2 linked regions of the Homo sapiens genome follow. The protein of the gene in region 1 interacts with the protein of each later gene in a biochemical or structural test. Each region holds a gene or a part of one and is shown on either strand. Other genes may lie near its edges.

Region 1 (3,911 bases):
TTAGCGGGGTGCTGTGGCAGGCAGCTGTAGTCTATAATCCCAGCTACTTGGGAGGCTGAGGCAGGAAAATCACTTGAATCCGGGAGGTGGAAGTTGCAGTGAGCCAAGATTGCGCCACTGCACTCTAGCCTGGGCGACAGAGCGAGACTCTGTCTCGAAAAAAAAAAAAAAAAAATCCCAAACTTCCTAGTAGAAATAATGGCCAAAACCTTCCCAAACATGATTAAAGACATAAATTCACAGGCTCAAGAAGTTCAGTGAACTCCAAGTAATCAATCTCAGTGAACTCCATATAATGAATGATCTAACACAATTATGAAAAAAGGGAAGTAACTACACTCAGACGATTGAGGGAGAGGGAAGAAAGCATTCAGGTATGTGAGATTTGGGGAAGTATAGGGAAAACAAAACAGGTCAATAAATGACAGCTAAATTTTCCCATTCCATAATGGGAAGCCAATAGTTCACACCTAAAACTGAAAGATCAAGAAATGTCCAATTAACTTGTTTAGGGAAAAAGAGATTACTACCTTAAGAATCAGTTAAGAGTGCAAACTGGATGTCTCAAGGGATGGAAAAATGGGGGTAGTGAGAGAGGTGGAGGATTACTCTAATCTGTAACAAGCCTTGCACAAGTACTTGGCCCTTTGAATTATAAGGATGTATAACTCCAAAAAATTAAAACGAAGAGACTGTGTACTTTAAGATGGCAGTGTAATAAATATCTATTGGAAAACACTTGATATTGTTACTAGAAAAGCTTTAAGTTCTAAATAAACTAATATTTACCTTTAAATATAAGAAAGGTCATAAAAATATGAAAGTGGGCCTAAAGAATATTAGGCAATTAGCCTAAAAGCCATTTGTTACTTTATTTCCCCTTTCACTTTCCTTCTACTGAGTTTTCAAGGTTAGTCGTATTTGTGGGAAAAACTGGTTTGATGCAGATAGGTCCTATGTTGCTCTGCCTTAAAAACTTCAAAGACTACGTGTACTAAATGCGGAAAAGTGGGAGGTGGCAATGACAAAATGTGGATTTGAATGGTGCATATTGAGTGAACTGAAATGGACTTCTGAAAAACTGACATGCAGAGTGGATTAAAATATACACTTCTCTCCATTCTGTGAACATTTTAGGAAACTCTGCTTCAGTCCAGTACCCTTTTACACTAACAGAAATGACAACTGAGTCTTCAAAATAGCTATGGAATAAAATATGCTCTTGATTCCATATAAAACCAAGTCAAAATCAGCTTAAGTAAAATTATCATCTGTACTAATGCTGGCATATTCATCCAAAGAACTAAATTTAGGTATTAATCATTTTTTTTACCTCTTACCACAAGTAATAAGCAATTATTCGTAATAATGTCACCAAAAGAAAGAAAACATATATATTTTTAAAAGGCTGTTTAGTGAACAACTCAAAATCTGTGCTTCATACATACAAATCTAGTCCCCTTGTACTACAACTACACTAGTTATTACATGATCGATGGCTTAGGTGCTGAATTCAGATTCTGGTGGCTATGAACATCAATCATTTTTAAAATCTAGTACAAGTGACAGTTCTCTGTATCTTTAAAAGTGCTGCTCACATTCATTCGTAGAGATTTTCAATTTTTGGATTTACTATATTTGATCTTCAAGGAATGATATTTTTGAAAAAATACATGCCAAACAGACATGAATGCCAGATGATGCCCTGATAAACATCCTCTAATGGCAAAGCATTTTTAGATCTTATACTTACAAGAATATGAACAAAACTAAAACTTCAAATCTATCTGCCTCAGATATAAGATTATGGATTTTTGTTTTGTTTTGTTTTGTTTGGAGACAGAGTTTTGCTCTTGTTGCCCAGGCGGGAGTGCAATGGCACGATCTCGGCTCACTGCAACCTCCGCTTCCTGGGTTCAAGCAATTCTCCTGTCTCAGCCTCCCAAGTAGCTGGGACTACTACAGGCGTGCACCACCATGGCAGCTAATTTTTGTATTTTCAGTAGAGACGGGATTTCACCATGTTGGCCAGGCTGGTCTTGAACATCTGACCTCAAGGGATCTGCCTGCCTCTGCCTCCCAAAGTGCTGGGATTACAGGCGTGAGCCAATGCGCTCGGTAATGGCTGTCTTTTTAATAGCTGGGATCAAACTATGCTTAATAACTCAGAAGTATTTAAATTGTTATCTTTCAAGACAAAAGTCAGCTTCCAAAACTCATTGTAGCTCTTCCATAAACTGATGCCTAAAAGAAAAATTCCACCTTCTATGAAAGCAAAGGCAAGTGCTTAAAGCTCTGACATACCTGAAGAAGAAGAAAGCCACCACCTACTGCAGTTGCTGCAAGTTTTCCAACTTTCTGGAACAGAAATCCTGCACACCTTTAATCAAATAACAAAAGATGAAAACAATCAATTATGTACTAAACCCTCTCCCTCTTCTACTTTTCATTGCTTTCCTAATAAAATCTTATGTCTTTGCATTTCTTTTGATCACATCCCTTACCTGCTCAGAAACCTTCTCAGAAACCCCTCAGTTATACAGGCTAGTCAAAAATGCACAATCTAAAATGTCTGAAATTTGCTTCAAAATAAGGGACGGAGAGAAGAGGAGGAGAATTTATAGAAAAAAAAGAGCAGCTACTAAAATAACGACAAGTACTCAGGGGTTCATTATATTCCTCCTACATTTGTATAAGCTGAAACCTCCCGTAATAAAAGTGATGTTTTGCTTAATACAGTCAAGATGGTCCATACACCTGGTTGACCCCCACCTTCGGCTCCAACCCCATTAACCTCCAAATAGGTCATCACCTTTGCTCAAGCTATTAATCTCCCTGCTTCTAGGGGTTTCTTCCTAGCTCTACCTATCTAAAGCTTTCCTACCATTCCTACCCTTTCAGGTCCAGCTGTTGTTCCACTCAATAACTATACTTCAGCCCACATTTCTAAAGGCCTCCTTATCTATATCTACCTATTTTTATATTAAATGTTTTTTGTGTCTCATCTACCCTGTGTCAGCTCATACTTCTTTTGTCATTAATTCGCTCCTTCAGTGAGCTCACATTCCCTTCAGCATTCCAGATCCACACTGTGCAAATGAATCCTATATTTCTAACTCTAGCCTTCTGCACTGGGTTGAATGGTGTCCCCCTCAAAATTCATATCCTTCCCAAAACCTCTAAATGTGACCTTATTTGAAAACAGAGTCACTGCAGATGTAATAAGTTCAGATGAGATCATACTGGACAGGGTGGGCCTTTAATCCGATAAGGACGCACACAGAGGGAAGACGACATGTGAGGACAACAGAGGCAGAGACTGGAGTAATACGTCTACAAGCCAAGGAATGACAAGGATTGCTGGCAACCACCAGAAGCTAGCAGAGAAACATAAAACAGATTTCTCCCTCTGAGCCTCCAAGAAGGAACAAACCCTGTTGACATCCTGATTTCAGACTTCTAGCCTCCAGAACTGTGAGAGAATAAATTTCTGTTATTTAATTTAATTAATTAATTTATTTTTTAGATGGAGCTCGCTCTGTCACCCAGGTTGGAATGCACTGGTGCCATCTCAGCCCACTGCAACCTCCGCCTCCCGGGTTCAAGCAATTCTCCTGCCTCAGCCTCCTGAATAGCTGGGATTACAGATGCCCGCCACCACACCCAGCTAATTGTTGTATTTTTAGTAGAGACGGGGTTTCACAATGTTGGCCAGGCTAGTCTTGAACTCCTGACCTCTGGTGATCCACCCGCCTCGGCCTCCCAAAGTGCTGGGATTACCAGTGTAAGCCACCGCACCTGGCCTCCACAGTTCTATATATTTTATCTCCAAAACATTATTTGACTGTCTTCTCCTTTCCACTCTCAAGGTCATCATTACCTTGCTTCCAGAACACTTTAAGGGCCCTCTA
Region 2 (3,911 bases), on another chromosome or scaffold:
AAGATACCTCCGCCAAACGCAGGTTCTCAGGCTTCACATGAACACTCTGAGAGAGGGAGTCCAATACTTCGCTCGCAGTGGAGTTCTCCTTGCTGACGCTCACCAGGAACTGTGGCAAAAAGGGCAGTCAGTGAGGGAGGTGGGCCACGTTCTCTAGAACAGCCCAGAGGGTAGGGGCTTACTCCTCACCTTGATGGGCTTGCTGTGGGGCTCTCGGGCAAAATAAAAGACAGGGAGAACCTTTTGCTTTTGTGGCAAGGGCACCGGCAGATAAAGAAACGGGTCAAAAGTGATGGAGACCTGTGGATGTAGAGGTGGCACTGGGTAGCTGCACACAGAGTGGGAGATAAGATGCTCATGCTCAGAGAGCCCATTCCGGGGCTTCTGATGGCTCTCAGGGCCCCCACAGCCAACCAGCAAACTCTCAGGCTTCAGGACACTAGACAGGGCAGGAGGACCACCAGGAAATAACAATCCTTCTTTCTGGCACTCAAAGCCCTACTCAGCTTAGCCACTTTACGAATTGGCCTCACACTTGCACCCCATGTGCCCACAACCCTGCTACAACACCTTTGAGCTCTAACATCACTTTTCCCTCAGTCAGGAAGCCTACCCTGAGTGGGCTCTTCAGCCCAAATAGAATCCTAAGGCCTCCCTGCCAGCTTCTTTGCCCAAACCTTGCCCTGTAGCACCTTAAGATGCACATGCCTCTGAACCTAATGTGACCAGAATAGCTGAGCTGAACTAGGGGGTCTCTTTCCAGGGGAGCCCATCACACCTTGGCACACACAGGGCACACCAGCTTCGACTTGTACTGCCCCTGAAATAGGTCCACGATGAAAGAGTCATTCCTCATCTTGTGCCGCTGCCATGCTTCCTCAGCTACCACCTGAGAGGCAGAGTGGTGAGAACCAAAGAGTACCAGGGGCTGGGATGCTCATGAGACATGCCCACCCTCTGTCCCTAACCCTGACCTCATCGGGCCGCCCATCTGAATCCACGGTCTCTGTGTAGGGCTTGTTCTGAATGCGATTCAGGTCCTCGTGCAGCCCATCCAGCAGGAAAGCCATGAACTCCTGGGCATCATGCTGTGCATAGCCTGTGAACTGGCTGGCCTTACTCGCCACAATGGCCTGGATACAGGAGCCAAGGTGTGAACATGAAGCCCTAGCACCCACTGCACACCCAGCTGGCTGGCCCTCCCCGCCCCCTCCAGCCAAGGGTGACAGTGGTCACAGATCACCTTCAACTTGGAAGGCTGGAAGGCATGGTGGGTGCCCTTCCACAGCGCCCGAAGCAGCACGGCAAAGCCAATGGCCAGACGCCCACCAGTCCCTAGTGGGTTGTTGTAGTTGATCTCAGCCTCAAAGGAGCGGTCTAGGAATAGTAGCCGAGCAAAGGTGTGAGGAACAAAGGCACTCTCTCTGCCCATAACCCAGGCTCCAGGCCCTGCCCTCACCATGGAAGAAGTCCCGGAGTTCCCGAGTGTTGGACAGAGACTGAATGACGCTGTTCATGAAGCAGGTGTTGCCTAAATTGACAAGGCCAGTGAAGCCTGGCAGACACACCTTCTTCTCTTCCTCTTCCTCCTCCTCCACGCTGTCTCCACTAACTGGGCTGTGGGGCATGGGAGGCACCATGCATGTAGGCTTGGGCTGCAGGAGCAAAGACGACATGAGAGAACAGCCCCAAGACTCTCCAGCCTCCATTCTTCGTCCTTCCCACCCCAGAATTCTCACCGAGGCCAGGTGTGTCTCTGGCTTTGGGGTTACATGCTCCATGGGTGTGCGGGTTGCCACACTGTCTAGCCCTGTGTCCTCAGATCGTGCCTTGGATTTATCCTTCTCCACAGCCCGGGCCTCCTCCTGGCCTGTCAGGGGGTGGGGAGCACCTCCTGGTGGGGTTGAATCCAGAGGGGTTGGACCTGTCGGCACGGCAACCTTTGCACCACCCACTGCACCTTAAAAAGGGGGAATGAGAGGGCTGGTGGTTAGCAGCATGTGACAGGGGTTTGGGTCCTGGTCACGTGGAACTGGGCAATGAAGGGAGCTCGTGTGCAGACCTCGTGCAGCCGGGGCCTCCAGGCCCCCCCAGCGCTGACTCTGCCTCTTACGAAGGCAGATGTCGATGCGAGAAGCCGTGAAACAGAAGGTGCACTGCTCTGGCTCAATCAGATTCCTGTGGGAAAAGGCTGAACTCAGGGACTTAGGAGGAATGAGCATCAGGATAGATGAGCCAGGGAGATGGAGCCCACGGGGTAGGACAGGCACAGTGGTGGGGCCGGGCACCACCCACCTGAGCTTCACCTGCCAACGGAAGGTGGTGTGGGGCCCACAGCCCGGGTGCAGCCTCAGGAAGTTTCCATCCCTGCAGAGGCACAGCAGGATAGGAGGAAGGACAAGAGGAAGAGCATGAGACATACTGTCCCACCTGAGGCATTGTTTGCCCCATCATCTACCCACCCACCTGGTCTGGAAGATGAGCGTGAAGTCCTGCTCACGGAAAAGTACTCTTGAGGTGTCCCTGCAGATCTCCTTCACGTACACGTGCACCACCACTGAATCCGGGCCCTTCTCATACGAGTCATTCTTGACAAACGCCAGGTTCACCATCGACTCGGGCTCTATATTGAGACCATGGCTCAGCCCCAACCAGGACAGGTTCCAGCCTATTGCTACTCTCTATCCACCTACAAACTTTGCAACCCAACCTAGGGCTCTGCCTGCCCACCCCCACCTTTACCATCCACCAAGGTTGCAGCATCTGCTGCCACTGCCATCTCCTCCTTGGCACAGTCATCTTTCCCAGGGTTTCTGCTCCGGACCATGGCTGGAGAGACTGGGTCATTCCCGGGAGGCACTGCTTTCTCTCCTGCCAAAGGGGCTAAATTCTCCTCTGAGCCCAGGAGGCAGGTTTGGGAGTTCAGCGGTGGTATGCAAAGCTGTTCATCAGCCTCAACCTATTAATGGCAAGATTGTGGAAAGAATCAGCCCTGGGTCTGCCAGGTGGCTCCCACTCCAGTGCACACCCTTTCCCCCCATCTCCTAACACCCAAACAGGTGCCCAGCTCTCACCTGGGTGGCTGGGTCAGCCACGAAGGGTGGGGCATCACCCCGGGGTCCAGGGTCATCCCTGGACCCGTCCCCCTCTGGCCCTCTGCAGAGATGCACAGCCCTCTTGGCGCTGGGCCCTGCCTGGGCCCCGGGGCCAGCCCCTGCGCCTACCTCACCACGGCCCTGGGCCCGCTTCTGGTTCCGGGCCTCCTGCTTAGCCCGGTGGGGCTCAGGGCCTGGCTCCAGGGCAATGGGAGACAGTTCCTGCCCATTCTCCTGGCACCGCAGCCCCGGCACCAGCTCCTGGGTCCCTAGAGGTTTCTTCTGCCAAAGATACAGCAGTCAGGCCCTGTCGACTACACTGGTATCCCTACCCAACCCTGTACTACTAGAACTCACCAGGAGGGAGGGCCACGTGAGCATAGGCACCTTTTTGGGCAGTGTCAGGTGCAGGAGACTGCCCTTGCGGGTTTGCACTTTAGCACAAGAGCTTTTTATCTCAGCATAGAAGACACCACCCCACTGCTGACCACCTGGGGACAGAGCAGGGTCCATGAGGTAGGATAGGAGATATCAGAAGATTCAAACATACTACTGTGCTCAGGGCAGATGGACACACCTGCAAACCGCACCACACAGTCTGTATCTGTGAAAGCAGCATCTACATCCTCCAGCTGCAGGGGACCTACTCCCACACGAAGCTTGACAATCACCTCTTCTGCACTCTGCCTCCAATCGAGCAACAACTCTGGAGTGGGAGTAGCCAAGAGATCATGAGGGTCTTCACAAGCTCCTGATGGTGATAAGCAGGTAACAGAGACCCAGCCTAATGAAACTGCTTCAGATGGGAGCCAAATT

Evidence for each region.
Region 2: the proteins of FUNDC1 (region 1) and USP19 form a complex in vitro, tested with the Homo sapiens proteins (one study listed by BioGRID).

The regions. Positions count from the first base shown.
Region 1 is NC_000023.11:44,536,163-44,540,073, forward strand, and holds part of FUNDC1 (FUN14 domain-containing protein 1), read right to left. Parts: intron 2,381-3,911; coding exon 2,305-2,380; intron 1-2,304. UniProt on the Homo sapiens protein: Integral mitochondrial outer-membrane protein that mediates the formation of mitochondria-associated endoplasmic reticulum membranes (MAMs).
Region 2 is NC_000003.12:49,113,985-49,117,895, forward strand, and holds part of USP19 (ubiquitin carboxyl-terminal hydrolase 19), read right to left. Parts: intron 3,847-3,911; coding exon 3,673-3,846; intron 3,587-3,672; coding exon 3,453-3,586; intron 3,378-3,452; coding exon 3,075-3,377; intron 2,960-3,074; coding exon 2,743-2,959; coding exon of another isoform or gene 2,737-2,742; intron 2,624-2,736; coding exon 2,467-2,623; intron 2,368-2,466; coding exon 2,296-2,367; intron 2,179-2,295; coding exon 2,063-2,178; intron 1,961-2,062; coding exon 1,740-1,960; intron 1,656-1,739; coding exon 1,460-1,655; intron 1,378-1,459; coding exon 1,244-1,377; intron 1,134-1,243; coding exon 975-1,133; intron 890-974; coding exon 779-889; intron 301-778; coding exon 190-300; intron 110-189; coding exon 8-109; intron 1-7. UniProt on the Homo sapiens protein: Deubiquitinating enzyme that regulates the degradation of various proteins by removing ubiquitin moieties, thereby preventing their proteasomal degradation. Stabilizes RNF123, which promotes CDKN1B degradation and contributes to cell proliferation.